Regions from separate parts of the Homo sapiens genome. Here all the other regions are linked to region 1. Evidence: fine-mapped QTL for protein levels in blood plasma. A gene starts in region 1. Each other region holds a variant in brackets. All regions are shown on one strand. Distances are from middle to middle. Region 1 holds the start of KDR (kinase insert domain receptor). Region 2 overlaps KDR (kinase insert domain receptor). Region 3 overlaps KDR (kinase insert domain receptor).

Region 1 (12,218 bases):
ATGATACTGTTGGATGCAGAAAAAACTATTTCAGAAGAAGAATGAAAATCTTGTCATCAATTATTTGGAAGTTTAGAGTAAACGATTATGTAAGCCACACTAAACTTGTCTTTCATCTTACAATATAATGAGAGAGACAGACACACATACTCAAATAAACCTGTTATAAGGCATGATATCCTTTATGTCACAACAGATATTCTTGGACCGTGGGGAATATAATTGTCATTGATTAGCTGTCTCTTTAACATCCATTTCCCCCTGCTTCCTAGAAAAATATTTAGAATTTTTTGAGTAATAGTCCCTTTTCTATTTTAATTATGTAGTTTGGTGTTATTGAGCCTATTCTTAATTGCAAAGGTGGACTCTGACATAGGCTATCAGATCCTTCCTGCTTCTGGTAATTGGTTTAGGGATAAGGCAATGAGATTTAAGATGTGCTTAGGTCAAAGGATCAAAGGATCTTCCCTTTTATTTCTCAAGAGACACTGTCTTTCTGTGGACAGTGTGGGGTGAGAATGTGTAGTCATGTTTTTTTTTTCTATTATGAGGACAGCCTGAAGGCAGAATTGAGAAAATCACAGAGAAAAACAGCAGGATGACACAATGAGACTCTGGAAAAAACTGTCTGAAGCCAGCCCATAACTTACAACAACATGATCCTATACATTCAGGCCAAATTGAGTTGGTTTTCCTGTTTCTTACAACTTAAGGAATCCTTACTCTTGCAGGCATGGAGAGAGTAAGTCAGATGGGGAGATGGGAATGAGTAGGGATTGCAGAGACTTCCTGGGGCCTCTTTTTAAAGAGGGGCCAACTACGTATGGGCAGATATTGGAATAAAGCACATTCAAGGCATACAGTAAGCAAGAGACAAAAAAGTGTAATGCATTTTCTGGAGGTGGCCACTGAAATCTAGAAAGTTGGACTAAGAGTATGTCCACGGTATACCGGGAGGTAAGTTGTATAAATAGGAAGCAGCAAAGAACAAAACCCTTAAATACAAGGCTTGGGATTTGGGGCTTTATGCTATGTACAGAGGTCAACTGTCCAAGGTGAAGGACAGATGAACTTTGTGTTTTAGGAAGATAACTTTGGCAGCAGAGTGATGAGTGGACTGGAATATTCCAGGAAAAAGGCAAACTGGTCACGAGTCAGGGCAGTCTGATGAATGAAAATAGGAGATGGATATGAGGGAAGTAAAGAATGTAGACAAAATTGGATTTGAGAGGAAAAGAAAAGGCAGGGGGATATCATGGAATGTAGTATAAGCATCTAGAGGGACTTCGAGCTTAAGAAGGCTGAAGGAGGCAGGGTGGGTATAAACAGACAAAGAATTCAGTTTTTGGCACTTTGAATTTAAGAAATTGGTGGAACATACACAGAGATGTCCAGGAAGAATTAGAGATTAGAGGCTGGAGCTAGGGTAGAAAATCAGAGTTGGAGAGCACAATTTTTCAAGTTTTCTCCATAAGGAAGATAGTCAAAGGCAAAAGAGGAAATACAATTCCTGAGAAAGTCATGGAAGAGTACAAGGGATGGTGACCAAGAATGGATTTGGCGATCCCTATGTTTAGGGTTGAGCAAAGGAATGTCAGCCAGTGAAGGGCATTGGCTGGTAGGTAGGAGTGTACCCATGAATGTTTCAAGCTTCAACAAAGACGGAAGTTCAAGAAGAGGGTGGACAATGGGATGTCTGTTGTGGAGATGCTGGGCAGAGTCAAGAGTAAGAAGTTATTGTACATGAGGAGAGAAGGTGAGGGATGTCCTTTTATCTTTCAAGAACTCGTTTGAAGGAAAGGTCAAAGTACTAGACTACTAAGTAGCTTCAGGGAGCAGCAAGGTCAAGTTTTCTTAGGATAAGGAAATAGAAGCATTTTTCTATATATCCAAAGACCATTTTAATGTGGAATATTTTTGATGTGGTGCTTTGTTACTAGAATCATTTTCTCCACAGCTGGATCTTTTATTTATATTATGTGATCAGATGCATGAAATGACTCCCTTACAGCCTTTCATCTGCCTATGACCAGCCTGACCAATTATTGGATGATTATCAATTAGATCTAAAGTTGTATTTTTCATTTTATTTTGAAATTTCTCTCTTTGTGAGGCATTCCTTGCGGAGATTTTTTTTTAATTAAGTGAAGCAAGGCAGTGATATATTAGAAATGAACGTTCAGAAACACTGCTCAAAGAAAAAAATTTTATTTATGCCTCCAGGGACTATTCACCAATGTTTTGGAAACTCTGGAGACTAAATTTATATACAAAGAACATAAAACTTTTCTGCTGTCATTGACTTGCTCTCAACACTGGTGAAGTGGCATTACCAGGAAACATTATTTTTAGTCTCTAAAAATGTGAACAGTATTGCAAACTAATTCAACTAACCTGGAAGTGTATACATTCTTCTTATATGGGAATGGTAATCTGTAGCACTTCTCTGGGAACCAAAAGTATATTTTTGCACTATTCAGTTCTTTGAAAACTTGATAGGCTTAAAGGGGGAGGATGGTATTAATTCACTGGAAAATGGTTACGAGTCTGCAAATGACACAGATGCAACATTTCAATCACACGTTTCTTGTATAGTACATGCAAATCTTGTAAATGCTTTATTTCTTTTTCTTCATTGTACTCAAAATCAAAAACAAAAATCTTCAATCCCCACTGCTTAATAAATTAAGAACTAACTCTTTCACTCCGTTGTGTCTATGTTGACATTGTATGGTTCCATTTATTCCCACAAGTTGCTCTCTGTAAAGACATTTGCAATGAATAGTCAAGAGGCATGTGATTCTGGAAAAATAAAAAGCAAAGGAGGAACAAATAGCAGCAGAAATGGAAATAACAAAAATAACTTGGACATCATTATTGTGTTTAGAGGTGAATATGCACAGGGACTGTGTTAGGCACGGAGAATACAAAATCAATGTGACCTAATCCCTGATTTGAGGGAGAAATATTTGAATAAATATGTGATTATGCTATCAGATGTTGCATAAGTGCTATGTGCGTACAGGAAAAGGAAAATAATTTCCTAGTTCTGTGAATAACAAAATAGTCCACATTAATTTGTCAATGATCAAGTATAAATTCAGCATAACTGGATATATTTATTAAATGGATGACTATTATCTAAATTTGAATTTAAGAATAATCATATAAAGTACATTTTATATAGCTAGCACATATAACATTAACCCAAGTATCTTTACAATAGCTTTATTTAATTAGACATAACACAATAAGTCTATAGTATACAAAATAGATTTTATTAATAGGCACCATCATCATGTCCTTAACCGTTTTTATTAGACCTTACCAACTATCCTTCCAAACTTAACTACTTGCTCAGGTAAGATTTACCTTTGCCTATTTCTCCTAGAAGAGTCTGAATTGAAGCAGACAGCTGAATAAAAAAACAAAACATATCACTTGGGACAGATATTTGCACTGGGTATGGAAGGTATGTCCAGGAGGACAAATGACAAAAATTCATGGTAGAAAAGAAATGCCCCAAATGCGCAAGTGATTATTTGTATAGAAGCAACTGCTCCTTTTTTTTGTTTTTTTTTTTGTTGTTTTTTTTTTTGAAGAGAAGATCTGTGGTTTGGGGGTTGGGTGGAAGGTAAATATTCAATGCGGCTGGGATTCTGCAGGTGGGGAGGGCAAGATCTAATTACCTGCTTTGCATTCTTCCTTGGTCAGCCATCTCAGAGTGCCTCTTCTAAGTCACTTAGCTTTTCATGCATCTAGGAAAATGGAAGCTATTGTTATGGAGAGGCAGAGGAAGTCAGTGGCATCAATTCACTTAGCCTCATGCCTTGAATGAGATTAGTCCTCAAAAAAACAAAAAACCAAAAACAAAAAGCTATTTGTATGTGCTAGGAGGGGTCTGTTTTGGGTGCTTAATACTGCTCTGCTTTTAAGTCCTGATTCCACCACTTACAGTTATGGGACATTGGAAAAGTTACTTAAACTTTCTAAACCTCGGCCGGGCGCGGTGGCTCACGCCTGTAATCCCAGCACTTTGGGAGGCCGAGGCGGGTGGATCATGAGGTCAGGAGATCGAGACCATCCTGGCTAACAAGGTGAAACCCCGTCTCTACTAAAAATACAAAAAATTAGCCGGGCGCGGTGGCGGGCGCCTGTAGTCCCAGCTACTCGGGAGGCTGAGGCAGGAGAATGGCGTGAACCCGGGAAGCGGAGCTTGCAGTGAGCCGAGATTGCGCCACTGCAGTCCGCAGTCCGGCCTGGGCGACAGAGCGAGACTCCGTCTCAAAAAAAAAAAAAAAAAAAAAAAAAAAAAAAAACTTTCTAAACCTCATTTTCCCATCTCCCTTAAATGGGAATAATTATAGTATCTTTTCTATTGAGTTATTATGTGCATTAAATAAGATAATCCAAGGAAAATACCTGACACATAGTAACTGCTCCAAAAATCTACCCCTTCTTTTTATTGTTATTGAAAAAAGCAAAGAATGCCCTGTTTTTTTTTTTTACCATATTCCTAATTATTGATGAAAAAACTTCATTGATTATTTACAAAGAGATATAACAACTTTTTTTTTGGGCAAGACTTTTAGGAAGGCAAAGGGACATTTACTTAAATTAAGAATAAATATTTTTTCTCTTTACTTCTTTTCTTTCTAAGGAATACTAATAGTGCTTGCCACCTCATGGGATGTTATGAGGATGAAATGAGAAATAAAGTACTCAGAACAGAGCCTGCTCAAATGATGTGCTCAAAAAGTGTTAGCTCTTAATATTTTTTAGCACCCTTCTCTGGTGCTGTGTGGACTTTCAGTTGGTTATTTAAATTCTTTGCATATTTTACACATTTAAAAATTATTGTATCTATTCTCATGTGAGATATTCCAAGAAATTATACGGGAGAGTTTGGGACTGGAACATAGTTATACGTGTTTATAGTAACTGAGATTTTTTTCCTTTGCAGGGAGCAAGTAATCAAGTTCTCTTTAATCTCTTTCACTAAAAGGATGGAGAGTTTGCTTTATATTTACTAGAATATAAGGCTTTGTGAATAAAATTGAACACTGTTGGACACATTCAAGGCAGGCCTGGCTTTGTGGTGACATAGCCTTCTTTTTCTTGAACATACAAATATAGCTTAAGTTAAATGAATAAATCTCACAAGGAGTAAAATAAACTTAGATGTTTAAAGAAGGTAGATAATGAGAAACAAAGGGTATGCTCATGATCTCCCAAGTCGCAATAGTTGTAAGTATGGATGGGCTGTGAAACTGAGCCAACATCTGGTGAGGTAGTCATAGGCTCTGGTAAGTTGAAAATAAATGAACATGGAAAGAAAAATACAGTAAACATGACAAAGTTGTCAATGCAAACATGTAATCAATAAATGGTCATATTTAAAAATATAACAGCCCCTAGAAAAGAGAGTTGATGTCTTTTATAATATTTTTTATTTGTAAAAGTAATACTTTCTTGGTTTGAAAAAAATTATAGAAATATATGAAGCAAAAAGTACATGTTCTCATCCCTCTGCCTCTGTGCCTCAATCATTTCCCCAAGGTAGGTATTTTTTTGGTGTGTACCCTTCTAGATATTTTCTGCAAAATTTTCTATTATGCATGTATGTCTCCATGTATCTCTTCTCTATATCTATATCTATATCTCAAAGAAATATAGAAAATACTATCTTTTTTTTTAGTCAGTGTGTCACTCTGTCACCCAGGGTGGAATGCTGTGGTGCAATCATAGCTCACTGCAGCCTCAGCCTCCTGGCATCAAGCAATCCTCCTGCCTCAGCCTCCTAAACTGCTGGGATTACAGGCATGAGCCACCATACCTGGCCAGGAAATATTTTTGAACAGCTGATGTTCTTAGGCGATGAAGGTATGTGTGGAAGACACCTGATGAAAGGCCTTGGTAACAAGTACTTTAAGGAAGAAAATTAAACATCTATTGAATCCTTATTACCACCATCACCATTTTACACTTTATAGAGCACTTCCATGAGATGATCTCATCTGAGTCTCGTAACAGTCCTTAAGGTAGGTAAGAATTATTATTTTCATTGACAAATGATGAAGCTGCTGCCTGAAATGATTAAAAGATAATGCTCAAGGACATTCCAAATCCTTATTTTCACCAAATCAAGGAAAAGACAATGGAAAAGTTAGTGTTGTATTGGCCTGGGCATCCCTTTGATTACAGTCATTTAAAACAGATTTTTTTTTTTTTAATCATGGAAACTTTCAAACACGTAAAAGTAGAGAGAATAGTCAAATGAATCTTTAAGTACCACTGTTCAACTTCCACAGTTATTTTTTTTAATTTTTTTAAAATTATACTTTAAGTTCTAGGTTTAATGTGCAGGTTTGTTACATATGTATATATGTGCCATGTTGGTGTGCTGTACCCATTAACTCGTCATTTACATTAGGTATATCCCCTACTGCTATCCCTCCCCCCTCCCCCCACCCCACAACAGGCCCAGGAGTGTGATGTTCCCCTTCCTGTGTCCATGTGTTCTCATTGTTCAGTTCCCACCTATGAGTGAGAACATGTGGTGTTTGGTTTTTTGTCCTTGCGATAGTTTGCTGAGAATGATGGTTTCCAGCTTCATCCATGTCCCTACAAAAGACATGAACTCATCCTTTTTTATGGCTGCATAGTATTCCATGGTGTATATGTGCCACATTTTCTTAATCCAGTCTATCATTGATGGATATTTGGGTTGGTTCCAAGTCTTTGCTATTGTGAATAGTGCCGCAATAAACATACATGTGCATGTGTCTTTATAGCAGCATGATTTATAATCCTTTGGGTATATACCCAGTAATGGGATGGCTGGGTCAAATGGTATTTCTAGTTTAGATCCCTGAGGAATTGCCACACTGTCTTCCACAATGGTTGAACTAGTTTACAGTCCCACCAACAGTGTGAAAGTGTTCCTATTTCTCCACATGCTCTCTAGCACCTGTTGTTTCCTGACTTTTTAATGATTGCCATTCTAACTGGTGTGAGATGCTATCTCATTGTGGTTTTGATTTGCATTTCTCTGATGACCAGTGATGATGAGCATTTTCTCATGTGTCTGTTGGCTGCATAAATGTCTTCTTTTGAGAAGTGTCTGTTCATGTCCTTTGCCCACTTTTTGATGCGATTGTTTGTTTTTTTCTTGTAAATTTGTTTGAGTTCTTTGCAGATTCTGGATATTAGCCCTTTGTCAGATGAGTAGATTGCAAAAATTTTCTCCCATTCTGTAGGTTGTCTGTTCACTCTGATGGTAGTTTCTTTTGCTGTGCAGAAGCTCTTTAGTTTAATGAGATCCCATTTGTCAATTTTGGCTTTTGTTGCCATTGCTTTTGGTGTTTTAGTCATGAAGTCCTTGCCCATGCCTATGTCCTGAATGGTATTGCCTAGGTTTTCTTCTAGGGTTTTTATGGTTTTAGGTCTGACATTTAAGTCTTTAATCCATCTTGAATTAATTTTTGTATAAGGTGTAAGGAAGGGATCCAGTTTCAGCTTTCTACATATGGCTAGCCAGTTTTCCCAGCACCATTTATTAAATAGGGAATCCTTTCCCCATTGCTTGTTTCTGTCAGGTTTGTTGAAGATCAGATGGTTGTAGATGTGTGGTATTATTTCTGAGGGTTCTGTTCTGTTCCATTGGTCTATATCTCTGTTTTGGTACCAGTACCATGCTGTTTTGGTTACTGTAGCCTTGTAGTATAGTTTGAAGTCAGGTAGCATGATGCCTCCAGCTTTGTTCTTTTGGCTTAGATTTGTCTTGGCAATTCAGGCTCTTTTTTGGTTCCATATGAACTTTAAAGTAGTTTTTTCCAATTCTGTGAAGAAAGTCATTGGTAGCTTGATGGGGATGGTATTGAATCTACAAATTACCTTGGGCAGTATGGCCATTTTCACGATATTGATTCTTCCTATCCATGAACATGGAATGTTCTTCCATTTGTTTGTGTCCTCTTTTATTTCATTGAGCAATGGTTTGTAGTTCTTCTTGAAGAGGTCCTTCACATCCCCTGTAAGTTGGATTCCTGGGTATTTTATTCTCTTTGAAGCAATTGAACTTCCACAGTTATTAACCTTTGACAAATCTTCATATAACTTGTTAAGACATGGAGTCCAAAATACTGTTGGTAATGTAACCAAATTTGGAGATCATGGAGAGTAATTTATGCAGTGTGCTTTGAGTATGAACAATGTATATTCTGTATGTACAAGCCCAGAAAAGTAGCTGGAGACAAGAAGTGCTTAAAGATTAAATTAAATTTGTCTTGGGTGAGGCTATTACAATGATTCCTCATTTAAGCTCATCTTGACATTATTTTCACCATCGTAACCCCAGTTCCTGGTTCAATGCCTAGCATATAGTAGGTGCTCAAAAACTGTTGAATGAATGAGCCTGCTTAGCAGTTTAGATCTCAGCAGCATGAAGAAGCCCATGCATTGTAGTATAAGCAACCTTTGCAGAATGTTTCTTAATGTGTATCTGGTGCTTTCTATGTCCAAGATCTTTACTAGCTGTGTTGGGGCCTACTCCAAGTGCCTTACATGCAGTAACTCCTTTAATTCTTGTAAGAACCCTATGAAGAAGGTACTATTATAATTTTTTTTGTGTTTCATAGATAAGTTACTTGTAAGTTGGTAAAGATCACACAGATCATAAGCGGTAGATCTGGGAATAAAATCCAGAGTCTGTGCACTTAGCTACTACTCTGCTGTGGCATCTGAATAGCATCTATGGAACACTCAACACATTTGGGGCACTTTGCTAGGTGCCTTACTGTTGGGTTAACTCACAAAAGTCACTCCTTTGCAATGCCAGATAACGAGAGGGTGCTGCACATGGAACAGCCTTTCTTTCTTTCTTTTCTATCTTTTTTTTTTTTAACAGACTTTGCCATTTTTTTTGTGAACCTAAGGCACTTCTAAGTGCTGTGTGGGAGGGAATGTGGTAGACTGATTTCATTGAGACTCTGCCAAATTCTGGTCTTGCGGCCATCAAAGACGCATCATTTCCTCCAAGACTTCTAAAGGGGGCTATTACCACGGGCCTGCAGGTTCTGGTTTGCATTCAGAGGAGACACTATCTTCTTAAATGAGACATGGAAGAGGAAGTGTCATGAACTGTAAATAAGGCTGATAGGGAATTGTTTGGTGATGGGGATGGAGAAAAACTGCCCTCTCCAAACCAGGTTCCATCTCCCACCCCTTTATCCAACTTTGCCAGAGTCCATCCTATTTTATTTGCTGAGTTTACTAGCAGGAAGAGAGGAGTTTCTTTAAAGATTCTCTCCCCTCCCCAAATAAATACCTCCCAGATAAATATGAGTACATCTATATAGTAGAGCACTATGCCAACATTGAAAAGATGGAAGGATGGAGCTTTGTTCGCAGCCAGCTTAGGCAACATAGTGAGACCCTGCCTCTATATAAAAATAAATAAATAAATAAATAAATAAATAAATAAATAAAAGATGGAGCTTTAAAGGTTGATGTAGAACGAATCTCCAGTGTATATTATAAAGTGAAGGCTGGGCAGGGTGGCTCGTGCTTGTAATCCCAGCACTTTGGGAGACTGAGGCAGGAGGATGGACTGAGTCCAGGCATTGGAGACCAGCCTGGGCAACATAGTGAGACCTTGTCTCAAATAAATAAATCAAATTTAAAGGGAAAAAAGCCAAGGCTCAAATAGCATTTATACCAAGCAATTGTGGGAAGAGAAGGGTGACATGTCTACATACTTGTGTTTAAGAATCTGCTTGGAAAAAAAAGGAAACATAAAAATGCCTCTGCCAAAAGAAAAGTCTTTTCACTCTAAGCCTTTTTGTGTTTTTCCAAAATTTTTTTTTGCCATATACATTCATTATATTTCAGCATTAAAATATTTCACCTGTCAACTTGGAAAAGTAAAAGCGTGAATACAGTAAATATTTAAAAACAGATGAAGATAAGTAACAGGTTACATTAATTGTATACAATCAATCTAGTTTGAATTAGGTGTAGATATAATAATTCTGTGTGTTTATCTTGGTGAAGAATGGTCCTTTAGGTTGTCATTAAAAAGCACCTCTGGGAGGTAAAAGACATAGGCATCTGGAAGATTCATATTTAATGAAGTTAGGGGACATTTGATGTCACTCCCCAGGTGTGGGGAGATATGGACAGAAAACCAGAAGGAACGAATGTGGTCAGGAAGGAATTGGAGTTCCCCTCCAAACAGCTGCCACAAGAAGTCCACACACGTGGAGACAGTTGTGCAATTTGGTCACAGAGTGTCCTAGGTGCTTTTGCTTCATTGCTCCTCCACTGAAGCACGCTGGCAGCTGGCCTCCTTCCCCTGGGACTAAGGATATCTTGGCTGGAAGCTCTGCTCTGAAAAGGGGCATGGCCAAACTTTCACTAGGGCTCTTCGTTGGGGAGCACGATGGACAAAAGCCTTCTTGGGGCTAGGCAGGTCACTTCAAACTTGGAGCCGCCAAATATTTTGGGAAATAGCGGGAATGTTGGCGAACTGGGCAAGTGCGTTTTCTGATTAAGAGCAACCAGATTCAGCTTTTTAAACTACAATTATACTGGCCAAACAAAATACCCTTATACAAAAACCAAAACTACTGGCAGGAGTCGCTGCCAGCTTGCGACCCGGCATACTTGGCTGAGTATCCGCTTCTCCCTTGTGGCTCCAAACTGCTGCAGATTCTCGGCCACTTCAGACGCGCGCGATGGCGAAGAGGGTCCTGCACTTTGACGCGCCTGGTGAGGGAGCGCTGCTCTTCGCAGCGCTCCTGGTGATGCTCCCCAAATTTCGGGGACCGGCAAGCGATTAAATCTTGGAGTTGCTCAGCGCCCGTTACCGAGTACTTTTTATTTACACCAGAAACAAAGTTGTTGCTCTGGGATGTTCTCTCCTGGGCGACTTGGGGCCCAGCGCAGTCCAGTTGTGTGGGGAAATGGGGAGATGTAAATGGGCTTGGGGAGCTGGAGATCGCCGCCGGGTACCCGGGTGAGGGGCGGGGCTGGCCGCACGGGAGAGCCCCTCCTCCGCTCCGGCCCCGCCCCGCATGGCCCCGCCTCCGCGCTCTAGAGTTTCGGCACCAGCTCCCACCCTGCACTGAGTCCCGGGACCCCGGGAGAGCGGTCAATGTGTGGTCGCTGCGTTTCCTCTGCCTGCGCCGGGCATCACTTGCGCGCCGCAGAAAGTCCGTCTGGCAGCCTGGATATCCTCTCCTACCGGCACCCGCAGACGCCCCTGCAGCCGCGGTCGGCGCCCGGGCTCCCTAGCCCTGTGCGCTCAACTGTCCTGCGCTGCGGGGTGCCGCGAGTTCCACCTCCGCGCCTCCTTCTCTAGACAGGCGCTGGGAGAAAGAACCGGCTCCCGAGTTCTGGGCATTTCGCCCGGCTCGAGGTGCAGGATGCAGAGCAAGGTGCTGCTGGCCGTCGCCCTGTGGCTCTGCGTGGAGACCCGGGCCGCCTCTGTGGGTAAGGAGCCCACTCTGGAGGAGGAAGGCAGACAGGTCGGGTGAGGGCGGAGAGGACCTGAAAGCCAGATCTAACTCGGAATCGTAGAGCTGGAGAGTTGGACAGGACTTGACATTTTGCGATCTTTCATTTACCAGTGGGGAAACTGAGGCTCAGAGACTGGCCCAAGATTACCCAGCGAGTCTGTGGTCGCCTGTGCTCTAGCCCAGTTCCTTTTCTAGGACTCTGGTTTGCGACAGGGACCTCGGCTGGAGCATGTCCTGAGATGCCGACACACCCTCAGGCTCTTGGGAGGCTGGGGTGGGAAGGCGCCTGGGGTTGGCAGGCAGGAGGTGCCTCCGCAGGCGAGAACAGGCGGTGAAAAGTTGTCTGGCTGCGCGCAACATCCTAGTCCGGGCCCGGGGAAGAAAACCTTGCCGGAATCTCAGGCCGGGTCTCCCGGATCGGACGGTACACTCGGTTCTGCCTCTTTGCGGGACCCGGCCCGTTGTTGTCTTCATGCTCGAACACACTTGCACACCACTGTGTGAAGTGGGGTCTGGAGCGGAGAGAAACTTTTTTTCCTTCCTTGGTGCAGGACGCCGCTCTCCTTGCAGAGCGAAGAAGGGGGGGAATAGGGACTTGTCCTGGGGGCTTTGACAGCTTCCCCAAGGGTCTCCAAGTAACAGCCAACTGTCCTGCGTAAAGCATTGCACATCTTTCAAAGCGCTGTGGTCCTTGGTGTA
Region 2 (12,218 bases), 28 kb after region 1:
CGTATAAAGCTGTGGACAGTAATAGTGGTTGTGAGGATTAAGTGAATGAATTCATGCAAAGCACTTCAAACAATGCTTGGCACATAATAAATGTATTTACTGTGCTATTTCAGCTGTTTTCTGTAGCCTTTCCCTGATCTCCTAAACTTGAGAGGACAGAGAGAACTATCTCTGTAATACAGATGAGAGGCACAGGATTTCAACACTTCCATAAAGTCATTCAGCTTGTTAGTTTATTATTATTATTAGCTTATTGTCATTTTTATTTTATTTCGTTACTTTATTCCTTTTTTTTTTTTTTGGTAGAGATGGGGTCTCACCATGTGGCCCAGGCTGGTCTTGATCTCCTGGGCTTAAGCGATCCACCTACCTTGGCGTCCCAAAATACTGAGATTACAGGCATAAGCCCCCATGCCTGGCTAGTTGTTATTTTTATGAGTATCACTAGAACTCAGGTCTCTTGTTTCCACATCTAGGTGTTCTTCGAAAAAGAAAGTGGAAGCAAAATCATATGCTTAAAGAAAGTCAGCTTTAGTTGCTAAAATCCTCTATTTCCCATTCTTCAAAGCTGACTGACAATTCAAAAGTTGTTTTTCCCATCTTCAGTCCCACCCCAGATTGGTGAGAAATCTCTAATCTCTCCTGTGGATTCCTACCAGTACGGCACCACTCAAACGCTGACATGTACGGTCTATGCCATTCCTCCCCCGCATCACATCCACTGGTATTGGCAGTTGGAGGAAGAGTGCGCCAACGAGCCCAGGTGAGTAAGGCCACATGCTCTTTGCTTTCCTGCCATCTTGCATTTCTTACAGCTGAGCTATGATATGACTCCATCCTAAATGGAGAAGCCTAAACCAAAAAAAGTTTTCTCTCAAGAGGTAGCCTGAATCTCCATCCATCTTTCTCTGTGTCTTACATTTTAGGGGATGTCTTTGCTTGGAGTATCCTCCTTTGGGGTTAGCTAAGCTCAGCCTTGTTAGGTTAGCCGTGAGGTACACTTCTCCAAACACAGGCTATTTGCTCAGTTTGCTAATTGCCAGTCTTTGGTTTTTCTCCCGATACCAATCGGCTGGTGAATACCACATCCCTCCTTCTTGTGTGTGTGAAGATCCATCTCTCAGAGGAAATGCTGATAGATGAGAGGCAGTGATAGACCCAGCCCCAGTCCTCAGGGTCTCAGGCCCAGCTTATCATGCTCTGACACAAGTCCAGACATCCTTAGGGAAAAACACAACAACAGCAGCCAACCCACCACCACCCTAAGCAGTCCACTTCCTGTTGTTGTTTTTGAAATGGCCACTATGAGCTTCTTCCTCAGCTGCTGATCATTTCCTTCACAGAGACCATGGTCCCAGAGAAATTACTTTAAGGAGCCCAGTGGCTTCTAAGTTTCCTTGCCTTCCTTTGAACTAAATTAACTTGAATTGTCTTGTCGATCCAATTTATGAATGAAGGTTTATTCCCAGAATAGCTGCTTCCCTCCTGTATCCTGAATGAATCTACCTAGAACCTTTTCCTTCATTGTCAATGCCTATTTTTAATTGGCGCCAAGTCTTGTACCATGGTAGGCTGCGTTGGAAGTTATTTCTAAGAACAGAATAACCAAAGTCTGAATCTTTTCCTTACTCTTGACTCTAATTAAAGAAAAATTAAATCATAATATGCGCTGTTATCTCTTTCTTATAGCCAAGCTGTCTCAGTGACAAACCCATACCCT[T/C]GTGAAGAATGGAGAAGTGTGGAGGACTTCCAGGGAGGAAATAAAATTGAAGTTAATAAAAATCAATTTGCTCTAATTGAAGGAAAAAACAAAGTGAGTTTGAAGTTTTAAAATTTGAAAATCTCTCTCTCTTTAATGGAAGGATGGTACAATAATATGTGAGGCATATTGGAGATTAATAATCAAATAGTCTGGATGATTAAATAGAGCGTATTAAGTCACTTTGAAAATACCATTGACTTTTAGCAGTACCATTAACTTATTAATAGCTTATCAGAGAAAAATAAAAACATCTATGACATTAAATCTATGCATCTGTGTAGGGTGATTCTGATTTTATAAACATGAGAATGAAAAAATGTGTATCATATCATATTAAAACACATCATTAGTTTCATGGCTTCCAAAGCCCTTTTTATATAATGTGTGAGCTCCACAGCAGCATAATTATACAAATTGAGTAAATATCCCAAACCTAAAAACCCCAAATCCAAAATGCTCCAGATTCTGAACCTTTTTGAGTGCCGACATGGTGCTCAAAGGAAACGCTCGTTGGAGCATTTTGGATTTTCAGATTAGGGATGCTCAACTGGTAAGTATACAATGCAAATATTCCAAAATCCAAAAAAAAAAATCCAAAATCCAAACCACTTTTGGTCCCAAGCGTTTTGAGTAAGGGATACTCAACCTGCAATTGCATAAATTTGAGCGTGTCCAACCGCTGCAGAAGTGGGAATGGCATAGGCAGGTTGGAGTGATTGTGGAGACTGCTGGACTGAGTGCTTGTGCACAAACAGCCGCGTTGTTTATGGCCTGGGATTTGTTTTTTCCCCGCACAGACTGTAAGTACCCTTGTTATCCAAGCGGCAAATGTGTCAGCTTTGTACAAATGTGAAGCGGTCAACAAAGTCGGGAGAGGAGAGAGGGTGATCTCCTTCCACGTGACCAGTAAGTACTCTTCTCTGGAGGTTTGGGTTGGATCACTCACACAGTGGGTACTAAGCTATGTAATTCCCTGTTGTTTTTGCCATTCATGTGAGTGGCATGGCATTTAGGAAAGAGGACTTGGATTGATCATTGATGCTTTCATTCATAAATTACAACTTCTCAGGTATCTCCTGGGCTTATGTGAAGTCAGTGCGTCTAACTACACTGGAGAGAGAATGGTTTCACAGATGCTTTAAACCACAAGCTCTGTGTGGTATTTACATCTCAGTCTTCAGAGTCTGGCACAGTGCCTGGCTTATTGAGCTTCAGTACATATTGGTGGGCTTGCTGTGGAACAGTTGATGAGGGTGGGCTTTATGGAGGCAATCAGAAGGACATAGGAGCAGTGCCCTCCCAATGCTGCCGATTTTGCCTGTGCATCTTAGTTTTATGGATAAGCTTTAGCTGATTGTGCTGAATGGAATATTATAGCCAGGGCTAATTCATTGGCATAAATGTAGCTTTCATATCATTGAGTGTTAGTGTTAATGAAGACCTAATTTTAAAATTCTGTTAGAATTAGAGATTTTGCTTTGGATTTTTAATATATTAAACATTGCGTAGAGCTCATAGTGGAGATGTGGTAAATATCTGAGGAATTCGTTTACATTTTCAAGTAATGTGTTTGGCCAAATAAGATATTTTGGGACCTGAATTGTCTAGTTTGTTTGTCAAGTTGTAGTACATCACCTGGAACGGATAGAGCTTCATTTCTTTTGGTACTTTGTAGTAGTCTGAAAGCAGCAAGATGATAGTGAGCTGTACCAAGTTAAATCACCATTCAATAACTATGGCCTCTTCATTTTAGGGGGTCCTGAAATTACTTTGCAACCTGACATGCAGCCCACTGAGCAGGAGAGCGTGTCTTTGTGGTGCACTGCAGACAGATCTACGTTTGAGAACCTCACATGGTACAAGCTTGGCCCACAGCCTCTGCCAATCCATGTGGGAGAGTTGCCCACACCTGTTTGCAAGAACTTGGATACTCTTTGGAAATTGAATGCCACCATGTTCTCTAATAGCACAAATGACATTTTGATCATGGAGCTTAAGAATGCATCCTTGCAGGACCAAGGAGACTATGTCTGCCTTGCTCAAGACAGGAAGACCAAGAAAAGACATTGCGTGGTCAGGCAGCTCACAGTCCTAGGTAGGGAGACAATTCTGGATCATTGTGCAGAGGCAGTTGGAATGCCTTAAATGTAGTGCAATTCAGGTGCTATGCAAAGATTACTGTCCTCTAGGAGATTATGTTGTAAACTGGTGCACACTTCTTCACCGAAAGTCCTTGAGGAAGAAAGAAGCTAATAATAATGAAATGATATATCGAAAGGAGAAAATAACAAAACCTGATGATGGAGTAATTCACTAGTATATGCAAGGGATATTAGCTTGAACCAGGGAAACTTCTGCCTTATCTTGGGCATCCATTTATTTAAATAGACAAATATTTGTGGAATGCCTGCTATGAGCTAGGAGAGTGTCAGAAATTCACAGTGGTAAACATGAAGGAAAGGAGGAGAACATAGGCAACCACTGGGAAGTCACAGCACAGTGAGGTCTCTGTGTCCATGAGAACAGGAATTGTTCTCTGTTTTGCTCCCTGCTATAGCTCTAGTCATAGAGCATAGCAGCATATACTAACTGCTCAATAAGGCACCTGCTGCATGAAGAGTGGGATGATGGGCTGCGTTTAAGACCTAGAAGACTCCATGGGAAGGAAGCTACATTCACTGTCTGTACCTCTGGGTCATCCCACATGATCCAGCGTAGCCCAAGGTCAATGGGACGATCACTTCAGTGAGCAGATAGCTCTGTAAATTCCTCCATAGAGGCACTGTCTACCCCTTGTCTAACCTCATGCCTTGTGCAAAAGCTGGGCAGCCATGGCTTTGTCTGTGGGAAAATCAGGCAAATTTGGGGAGCGTCTCTTTGTGCCACTTCTCTCCATTTTCTCCTCTTGTGGTGTCCCTTTCCAATTCCTAGGATATATGTGCCCTCTGTTTTTTTTTTACTGTTAGGAAGGAAATTGCCCAAGTAAATTCATCTATACCACAGTTTTAGAGGGTAACGTCTTCATCAGAGGCCTTGGCGTATTTGAAGAGGCACCTTCTGACAGACACTAGCATAAAGTTCGCTAGTTTTAAGACTCAGGTGTCATAATAAGAGATACTTTGGGGTCAAGTCATCCCCAGCATCCTTCAAGTCACACCACATAGATCACATGGATTTTCTGTTGGCTTGTCTGGCTTCAAGGTTATGGCAGAATTGAGAAAGAGATGTGAAGTAGGCTCCTGGCCTAGCTGTGCCCAGAAAATATGTGCTCGCAGTTAGCTGCTTTGCTTCCCTAAGGACTCCTAACTTGTTTTCCTAAAACCTATTCTTAGAAATAGGCTAGAATCCAGTACATTTGCTTAGACTTCAATGTAGTACGCTGTTGAGGTAATCTCATTTTGCTAAGTGTTGACGTGGATTTTTTCAGCATGATTCCTTTTGATGTTCAGTTGGTTGGGACAAGATATTTCCACAGCACTTTGATGATCTGAAGAAAGAATAAATCTAAAGTGTTCTTGTACACTTAAACAAATACTCATGGGCTTCATTTTCTTTAAATCCAAGACTTCCCTTAGGGTATTGTTGTTTTGTTTGTGTTTTAGTGGAAATAGCACTGAACTGGTCTTTTAGCCTCACCAGATTCTGTAAACAGTTCAACTGTTTACTTAGTTGCAGGGACATGGACAAGTGGTTTAATGTCGCTGAACATCATTTATTTCATCTGTGAGATAACGCTAACAGTCCTATTCTGCTCATTACATAAGATCACTAGTGAGGAACACAAATTGTGTAAACAAGTTTTATAAGAATTGCCAAATAAATGTAAGGCATTATTGGTTGAATGATACTAAAATTTGGCACTTCCAAGAGAAATTTGAAGGGATTCTAGGGTATTATTGACTAGAATCTTCATGGGAGGGAAGTTTTCACCTGGGGAGGCTGTGTCTAATTAGAGGAAAAATCCATAAAGGTGACCCTGAACCTTTCTTTTGTGATGGGATTACCAGCTAGTATCACTAATATGAATGTTAAAAGCCATTAATCTGTTTGCAGTGTCCTGACTGACTTGTTTCATTTAACTTTACCCAGTGACCAGTGTATTTTCCCAGAAGTTAATATATCAACAAGTTCCTTTTTACTAAATTTAAACTGTTTAAAAGTTTGCTGATACCAGAACCATTTCAAAAGTTATAATTCCATGTTCTGTGATTTTCTTTTTGTGTGTCTAGAGCGTGTGGCACCCACGATCACAGGAAACCTGGAGAATCAGACGACAAGTATTGGGGAAAGCATCGAAGTCTCATGCACGGCATCTGGGAATCCCCCTCCACAGATCATGTGGTTTAAAGATAATGAGACCCTTGTAGAAGACTCAGGTAAATAGAATTTGGCTATCACTCTTGGGTTGCAGAACTTTCCCAGGGATGTTATCTAAAAAGCCATATTATTTCTTGATGTAATGTAGAAAAAAAGCAGTATTGGTGTCCATGACCTGGCTCATTTCACAGACTTAGAATTGGAGTATGGGGCCCTGTTGAATTTTCATGAAAGCCATATAGGAGATTAGTCAGCAGTAGATCCCATGTGACTCTACAGAGTTAGATAATAGAACAAGATGAAGGGCAGCATTTATATTTTCTAAATTTCCCTGAAAAACTTCACAGACTACATCATCATAAATGAGAATGATCGTTTTCTTCCTCTGTTAGGCATTGTATTGAAGGATGGGAACCGGAACCTCACTATCCGCAGAGTGAGGAAGGAGGACGAAGGCCTCTACACCTGCCAGGCATGCAGTGTTCTTGGCTGTGCAAAAGTGGAGGCATTTTTCATAATAGAAGGTCAGTGGGATAAAAAAAAATGTGGTACATATACACCATGGAATGCTATGCAGCCGTAAAAAGGAATCTGATCATGTCCTTTGCAGCTGCATGGATGGAGCTGGAAGCCATTATCCTCAGCAAACTAACACAGGAACAGAAAACCAAACGCCACACATTCTCACTTATAAGTGGGAGCTGAACAATGTGAACACATAGACACAGGGAAGGGAACAACACACACTGGGGCCTACTGTGGGTTGGGGAGAAGGAGAGCATCAGGAAAAATAGCTAATGCATGCTGGGCTTAATACCTAGGAGATGGATTAATAGGTGCAGCAAATCACCATGGCACATGTTTACCTGTGTAACAAACCTGAGCATTCTGCACATGTATCCCGGAACTTAAAAGAAAAAAAGAAGGTCAGTGGGAAGTCATAGATACATCCTGTGGTTTTTGAAGATTAGTTTGTATCTTATAGACACACATTCACTTTGAATAGGGCAACGACAGATGATTTTTAATATTCTTTGTACTTTGTAAATTTTCTCAGTGAGTATGTATTCTTTTAACCAGCAAACATAATTAATGTTGTTATAATTCTGCTTGCATCACATTTCCTATTCCTGCAGTTCTTATTGTGGAAAAATTCTTAATCAGGCAGGATGAATAGCCTCTTCTCCCTGATTCTGTCTTTGTTTGAATGGCTTGATTAACTTATAGAAATGATGCCTTTATATTTATTTGGAAAAACATTAGAATTGCTGCCTAATCATGGCAGTCAATGCTATCCAGATAGTCACAAGGATTCCGAGTTTTAATTGGACTAGAGATAATTAAGATTCACTTGTGAACAATAGACCATTGCTCTTCTGACATGGAAAATTTTTGGTTTTTATCTCAATACGTGTGTATGCAGAAGTGATGTGAAATCTGTCATTTTCTTAGCTAGGAAAAGTAATTTGTGGCAGAATATTTTATCTTAAGAAGTATATTCCTATGGCTTTTTTTTTTATAGCCCACCAGGGAAAGAATAAAACTGTGTTGTGGGGTAAAAGAATGGTATGCAAGGGTAAGAAAGAAGTATGGTGATAGAAGGGATCGATGGATTTCTATGAACTCATCCTAACTTGTCTCTCAAAGTCTAGATTTTGGTCCCTTTACTCTGCCAAATCTATGATGCCAAGTATTGCATCGAGATATGTTGACATATTTTCAAATGTATAAGCTTATTAGCATTTCATAAACTACACTTGCAAATAAAGATTTCAAAGACCATGGCGGTTTTGTCATTTCCAAAGTGATTCATGTTTTAGGGCAAATCCGCAGAATGACGTCTAGATTGTCTCTGATGCTCTGCATTACCTCTTGTTGGTGGCCTGCAGCTGGTTACAGATGCCTAACTAGGTAACACTGGCACAGAGATTATAGTTACTTCTTACCTGGAGTGAATGCTAAGAAAGGCAGAGCTAGATATTTAATACTCCTGCTGGGTTCCCAAATGTTATGCGAGAATATTAATATACAAACACATAGAAAACAGACTCTTTGAACTTTTTATCCTCTATGTTCAACTGGACTTTTAAATCTGTGTGTATAAATAGAGAATTACTTCCCTAGGACCACCAGAGAAACAAAATTTACTCCAAGCATAATTGTGCTTGTCTCTCAATGGTTAAGTTAACTTTTATTTTGCAAACCAATTTGTTACTTATTTTGCAAACCAGTTTCTTACTTGTCTTCTTCTCTCTTGAGGCCGTAGTGGGCCATCCGCACAGCTTGTGGCCCGGTTTGATTCTCCTTGCACTCTTCTGATGGGAGGCCCCAAGTGATGACTGCTTCCTTATCATCTCTTTGCTAATCACTCTTAGTGGAAAGCCTGTTTCTGTATTTTGTTTCTTCCACTCAGAGCTGTCCTCTGAAGCCCTGAGCATCTGCAGCTTTGCTTGCTGACTTCTAGTTTCCTCTTCTCTTTCCTTTCATGAGTGATTTGAAACTCCCATTACCAGGCCATGCGTGATGTGCTCATCTTGGCTCTTCCTCTTCTCCTCACTCAGACTCCTGCCACAAGGGATGGGGTAGTGTATGTAATGGTTAGTTCATGTTGGACAGGCCTCTTTATCTCTTGACTGAACCACTGACTAGCTGTGTGCCCTCAGTCAAGTAGCTTAAGCTCTCTGGTCTTCTGTTTCTTCATCTGAAAACTGAGAGTTGTTGAGGAGATTAAGTGGAATGGCATATTTAAAGTGATGAGTGCATAGTAGATACATGGTCATTAGTAACTCTCAGGTCAAAAAATTTTGTTTATTTCCCTACTTGGTTTCTTATGTGATCCTTTTGCAAACTCTGCACAGATCAAAATATTGACTATCAGTTTAAAAGAAGACTTTTGTTTTCCTCAAATAGAAATATTTTTTTTTCTCTGTAGAGAATGATCTGTTTTCTTTCCATCAAAGACTGCTCTTCCTCTAAACACTTTCTATGTTTGGCTTTTAAGACATTACTACTTCTATGCTTAATTACTTAAGAATTTTATTGTTGTAAGTTTACATGAGCAATGTTTTGCAAGCTTTAAATTTTCCATTAACAATTCTGTAGGCCAGGTGTGGTGGCTTATGCCTGTAATCCCTGCACTTTGGGAGGCCAAGGCAGGGGGGATGGCTAGAGGCCAGGAGTTCGAGACTAGCCTGGGCAATGTAGTGAGACCCTGTCTCTACAGAAAATAAAAGAAAAATTAGCTGGGCTTGGTGGTATGCACCTGTAGTCCCAGCTACTCGGGAGGCTGAGGGGGGAGAATCGCTTGAGCCTAGGAATTGGAGGCTGCAATAAGCTATGATTGTGTCATGGTACTCCAGCCTGGAACATAGAAAGAAACCCTGTCTCTAAAAATAAATAAATAAATAAATAAATAAATAAATAAATAAATAAATAAATTAAATTCAAAAAAAGAATTCTGTAGACTCCATTCAAGTTACGGGTGTGTAACTGTTGTCCTCTAGGATTTTTCCAAGTTGGTAAGCTTGGGATTTTGCTTTAGTGCTAAAATTTGTCATCTTACAAACAAAAAGTATAAGTTTCCAACTGTTGATACTCATTCAATTGTGTCTTTCCAGGTGCCCAGGAAAAGACGAACTTGGAAATCATTATTCTAGTAGGCACGGCGGTGATTGCCATGTTCTTCTGGCTACTTCTTGTCATCATCCTACGGACCGTTAAGCGGGTAAAAAAATAATTTCCCTTCTGCCCATGCACATTGGTTTTCATGATTAATGAAAACTGACTGGGGTTCTTTGAGTTGTTTCTTCCCATTGTTATTGGCTCAATGGGCACATTTTTATTTCAATACAATAACGTTCCTGCCCACTTTCTTTTGGCTGGATCTCAGGGATTTAATTGATAGAAGCCACTAGAGAGGAAAAGGGCTTGGACTGTCTAGTGTAATTAAGCTTTAAAACCTTAATTCTGAGCTCCTTTGGGGGACAAGGGAAACTAGAAGCAGGGTTATAATAGGACCACTCTCAAACTCCATGAGTTTTATTGGAAAATGAGACAGGAATGAGGCTCCAATAAACAGCAATAACAAGCACACAAAACAACAGCCAAACAACAGTGTGTTTATGACTGGAAGGATTGATGCTTTCCAGGCCAATGGAGGGGAACTGAAGACAGGCTACTTGTCCATCGTCATGGATCCAGATGAACTCCCATTGGATGAACATTGTGAACGACTGCCTTATGATGCCAGCAAATGGGAATTCCCCAGAGACCGGCTGAAGCTAGGTGCATTTTCAATTGCTATTAATTTGATATTGTGTTTACCAGGCCATCTCTTCCTCCATTAGAATGATGACAAATGTGGTGTATTCAGATGTTGGATTCTGGTTTAGAAATATTAATTCCATTTCTTGAATTTGTATAATCATTCATATAGCCACTTAGAGGTAGGGTCCCTATGTAATCATCCAAAGCAGGACATTTGGAGAGTGAAGGGGGAGTTATTAAATAATTAAGCCAGGACAAAGGAGTAAACTGGACTATCCATGTTAAATTGGGATGTATGGTCACCCTATCTAGTTGATGTCTCTGCGTATCACTTTGGTTGTATAGTAATCCAAGTCTGTTTTCTTGTTGCTGTTGTTGTTGACTCTAGGTAAGCCTCTTGGCCGTGGTGCCTTTGGCCAAGTGATTGAAGCAGATGCCTTTGGAATTGACAAGACAGCAACTTGCAGGACAGTAGCAGTCAAAATGTTGAAAGGTAAAAGCAAAATTATGTGGTGATCTATCTTTCTGTTTTATCTAGTCTTTAAATATGTTGCAAGGCTTGTATCAGTAGCTTTGTGCTTATGTGGGCCTACTAGCCACACATGCAGTCAGCCTAAATAATGCCCTTGTGCAAATTGGAAAAAGGATCCTCCTTTGTAGCTTTATGCCAGGATGCATGGTCTGGCAAGCAAAGTTGGGAATGGCTTTCACCTTCTTGCCTGGTTACCCTCGTGCAGGGCTCAGCCAACACAGTTGTACTTAGTGGTTCTGGGTACAGGGAAAAAGGACTGTGGTTATATTAAAATTGTTTCTTAATATATTGTGGAATCAGATAATTATAGACCATCTAGAGACATGGAAAGGAAGATAGTGAAATACAAAAATAGCATGTTCTCCAGAATTGGAATATGTAAAAGATGTTCATATGTAAAAGATAATTTGCAAAACAAGAATGGTTGTGTTAGAAAAAAATATAATGGGTTATATTTTTTAAATTAAAAGCTTTATAAATAATTGTTAATTCTAATAGTAACGGAATTCTGGTCTGGCCATTTTCATTTTAGGAGGTTAGACAGTAAAGCTTCTTTCTTCAATTGTGATGTTCTTTCATTGATGAAGGCAGTGCCAATGACCCTTTGCCAATAGGTTTTGTGCATTTCAAAGCTATCTTTCTCCATCTGCCTTTTTTCTCTTGTGGCCAAGGGAGTGTGTAATTTTGAGGTGGCTCATCAGAGCCTTAGATGTGGACCATGCCTGTGAATTAGTGGGAAGTGTAGCAGTCCATACAGGATCAAACACATAGTCTTAGTGCCATCAGCCTCATGTGCCAACTGGTCTTTCCAGCTGGCCTTAATTCGCCTGCACAGATCGGCACAGATTGGCTGGAACATTCGGTATAGCCCCTAACACGTGAAGATATTTAATACATGGTGTTGCTTCCTTATGAGGAAGTGCTGAAATGATCAGACCCTCAGAATCATAGTGAACCTGAAATGCAAAAATCCAGTTTTGCAGAAGAAGAGAATCTGGGCATGATTCCACTGCAGATGTATTCTCCGCTTTGCAAAAGGTTTCACAATGGGTTCCTTTAAATATCAAACTTTCTGGCTCACTTAAAATATGAATTTTATTTCAAATTAGAAAATAGAATTTACACTTCACTTTTGAGGAAATGCATGTGGTCTGTAAACTAGGTCACAGCTGTGTTACCCCGGAGGGTAAGTTGTATAGTGGCATGCAGGGAGGGAGGGACCCCAATTATTGAAGGAAATGTCCATACCTATGATTTCCCTCTTTGTACTGTATTTGTAGAAGGAGCAACACACAGTGAGCATCGAGCTCTCATGTCTGAACTCAAGATCCTCATTCATAT
Region 3 (2,998 bases), 17 kb after region 1:
TGTCTGGTTAGAGTTTAGGAACCTGAAAAATGACCAACTTTTCTAGTAAATACTATTAACTCATTAATAAAACTAAATTTTCTTCTAGATTACAGATCTCCATTTATTGCTTCTGTTAGTGACCAACATGGAGTCGTGTACATTACTGAGAACAAAAACAAAACTGTGGTGATTCCATGTCTCGGGTCCATTTCAAATCTCAACGTGTCACTTTGTGCAGTAAGTTGCATCTCCTCCAATCGTCTCTTAAGTTTTTATAATTTTAAGCTAATATTAAGATGGGTAACCTGTTTATAATATTCACAATGAGTTTTAAGGATCCTTTAGGAAGGGTCAAATGCAATGAATAAAACTAATTAGTATTCTTAAAAATAAGATGAATTCTTCAGTGATCATTGTACATGGCTCTCATTTTTGGTACTGGATTAAATATTTGATATGTCTTTTTATTACCCAGAGATACCCAGAAAAGAGATTTGTTCCTGATGGTAACAGAATTTCCTGGGACAGCAAGAAGGGCTTTACTATTCCCAGCTACATGATCAGCTATGCTGGCATGGTCTTCTGTGAAGCAAAAATTAATGATGAAAGTTACCAGTCTATTATGTACATAGTTGTCGTTGTAGGTAAGAGGACATTTCCTTTCCATATCATTAATAACATATCCTTGTATTAAGATCTTGGAGATAACAACATAGAGTGAAGAAGGATATTGAAAAGTATAGGAACTCAGGATATGGTGTTGGGCAATTCATCTGCTCTTCTCTACCAAATAAACCCATGTGCAATTGAGGTTGTCTCTTTTCTTGCCAAGATTAAGGAAGAAAAAGAAAACTTTTTAAAAAAAGGATGAAAGCGAATGGTATTACTCGAGCACATTTTATGAAGAATTCAATGTTCAGAGCATTGCTTGCTATCAATTATTTCAATTATGACTATTTTATGGAAACTTCAGCAATTTGCTAAAGCTGGCCCTACTGGCCTAGGGCTACTGACCACTGAAAGTTTACTACTTTTCTGTCCACTGGGTTACAACATCTTTGAGATCTGTGAAGGTAGTGCTTTGTAAACCTCTGTTGGCCATTTTCCTGGGAGCTACCAAGTATTGGTGAGGCCTGCAGGGAAAAACAATGTGGCATGTTTTAAAGTTGCATTACTTTAAAAAATAAATCTGTGCAAAGTTATAGGCTTATTTGCTCTCTCATGTTCTGTTTTTTCAATTTACTTGCTCTAGGGTATAGGATTTATGATGTGGTTCTGAGTCCGTCTCATGGAATTGAACTATCTGTTGGAGAAAAGCTTGTCTTAAATTGTACAGCAAGAACTGAACTAAATGTGGGGATTGACTTCAACTGGGAATACCCTTCTTCGAAGGTAACGCTAATGATTCAAAGCCAGACCTCCAAATACTTAGATAATAAGCCCCAGTGAAGTTTGCTTGAGAGATAGGGGCCTCTTTGGCCAGATAAAATGTAAGAGCCTTAAACACACACACATACACACCCACTCACACACACATACACACACACACAATTTAAGGGAATTGCAGAACAGATAGCACCCACCAAAAGGTGAAATACCAGGAATTTTGTCCTATTCTGCAATAGCCAGGCTATGAATATTAGTTTTCTCTAGGTGATTACATCTTTCCACATTATGTCATTTCTCTGTTCTCCAAAGTTTTTGATCTACATTCCTTTTAAGGGAATTTCTCTTTAAGAGGTGGCATGAGATACACTGCTCCTTAAACAGTGGTCACATTTACTTGTGTTTCTGCAGTTTATATCCATCTCACTTTCACCACGTGAGGTTTTAAAAATCCTAATTCAGTTGGTTCCATTTATTTCTCCTGAAACAAAATATATTTGTTGTCTGCATGAGGTTAAAAGTTCTGGTGTCCCTGTTTTTAGCATTAAATAATGTTTACCAAAGCCCAGATTTAATTCTGTGTGTTACTAGAAGTTATTGGGTAATGTTATATGCTGTGCTTTGGAAGTTCAGTCAACTCTTTTTTTCAGCATCAGCATAAGAAACTTGTAAACCGAGACCTAAAAACCCAGTCTGGGAGTGAGATGAAGAAATTTTTGAGCACCTTAACTATAGATGGT[G/A]TAACCCGGAGTGACCAAGGATTGTACACCTGTGCAGCATCCAGTGGGCTGATGACCAAGAAGAACAGCACATTTGTCAGGGTCCATGGTAAGCTATGGTCTTGGAAATTATTCTGTGCCTTGACAAGTGAGATAATTTAAATAAATTTAGGTCACTTAGTGATTCCTATTTTGTTCATTCAGAAGATAGTTTCTAGTTTTTCTTGTTAGGGAGGCCACATGACCTAGAGGTCAAGAGCATAGCTTTGTAGTCAGGAACTTGGGTTCAAACCTCAACTTTAAAGATGAGATGTGCTGATATACAGTAAGAGTTCATTTAGTATTACTTATTATAGTTATTGCTGCTATTAGGATTGTTACTATGATAAATAGTATTAGCTAAGGTAGTTTTTAAATTTTCATTTTATTGCAAGGCTGAGAGGCCTACTTGAATAAGCATGAGCTTTGCAAACTGGGGAAACATTTAGCAATATACAGTTGACCTGTGAGCAACTCAGGGATTGGGGGAACTCAGGGGAGTTCCCCTAACTTTCCCTCCTCTGCAGTCAAAAATCCATGTATAGGCCGGGCGCGGTGGCTCACGCCTGTAATCCCAACACTTTGGGAGTCTGAGGTGGGTGGATCACCTGAGATCAGGAGTTCGAAACCAGCCTGGTCAACATGGTGGAACCCCATCTCTACTAAAAATCCAAAAAATTAGCCTGGTGTGGTGGTGGGAGCTTGTAATCCCAGCTACTCAGGAGGCTGAGGCAGGAGAATTGCTTGAACCCAGGAGGTGGAGGTTGCAGTGAGCCAAGATCGTGCCATTGTACCCCAGCCTGGGCAACAAGAGTGAAACTCCTTCTCAAAAAAAAAAAAAAAAAAAAAATCAAGGTATAACTTTTGACTTC

Evidence for each region. PIP is the chance, under the fine-mapping model, that this variant and not a neighbour inherited with it causes the effect. Protein levels are from the aptamer-based SomaScan assay of Sun 2018.
Region 2: its variant is fine-mapped to the plasma level of the KDR protein (Sun 2018, PIP 0.95). The variant lies in the coding sequence of KDR. If it changes the protein, the assay may bind it differently, which can mimic a change of level.
Region 3: its variant is fine-mapped to the plasma level of the KDR protein (Sun 2018, PIP 0.95). The variant lies in the coding sequence of KDR. If it changes the protein, the assay may bind it differently, which can mimic a change of level.

Annotation. Positions count from the first base shown.
Region 1 is chr4:55,124,502-55,136,719 of GRCh38, reverse strand. KDR (kinase insert domain receptor) reads left to right here and starts at 11,125. Exons shown (of 30, transcript NM_002253.4): 1 at 11,125-11,493. The coding sequence starts at 11,427. RefSeq lists an enhancer at 3,445-4,058.
Region 2 is chr4:55,096,282-55,108,499 of GRCh38, reverse strand. KDR (kinase insert domain receptor) reads left to right here. Exons shown (of 30, transcript NM_002253.4): 10 at 607-763; 11 at 1,690-1,813; 12 at 2,560-2,668; 13 at 3,516-3,857; 14 at 5,992-6,138; 15 at 6,472-6,603; 16 at 9,697-9,803; 17 at 10,228-10,363; 18 at 10,734-10,838; 19 at 12,158-12,218. Among named protein-coding and RNA genes, the nearest start is that of KDR, 23 kb to the left of the region's middle. The variant T/C (reference allele first, on the strand shown) is at 1,721.
Region 3 is chr4:55,112,502-55,115,499 of GRCh38, reverse strand. KDR (kinase insert domain receptor) reads left to right here. Exons shown (of 30, transcript NM_002253.4): 4 at 89-219; 5 at 458-626; 6 at 1,235-1,374; 7 at 2,019-2,196. Among named protein-coding and RNA genes, the nearest start is that of KDR, 12 kb to the left of the region's middle. The variant G/A (reference allele first, on the strand shown) is at 2,109.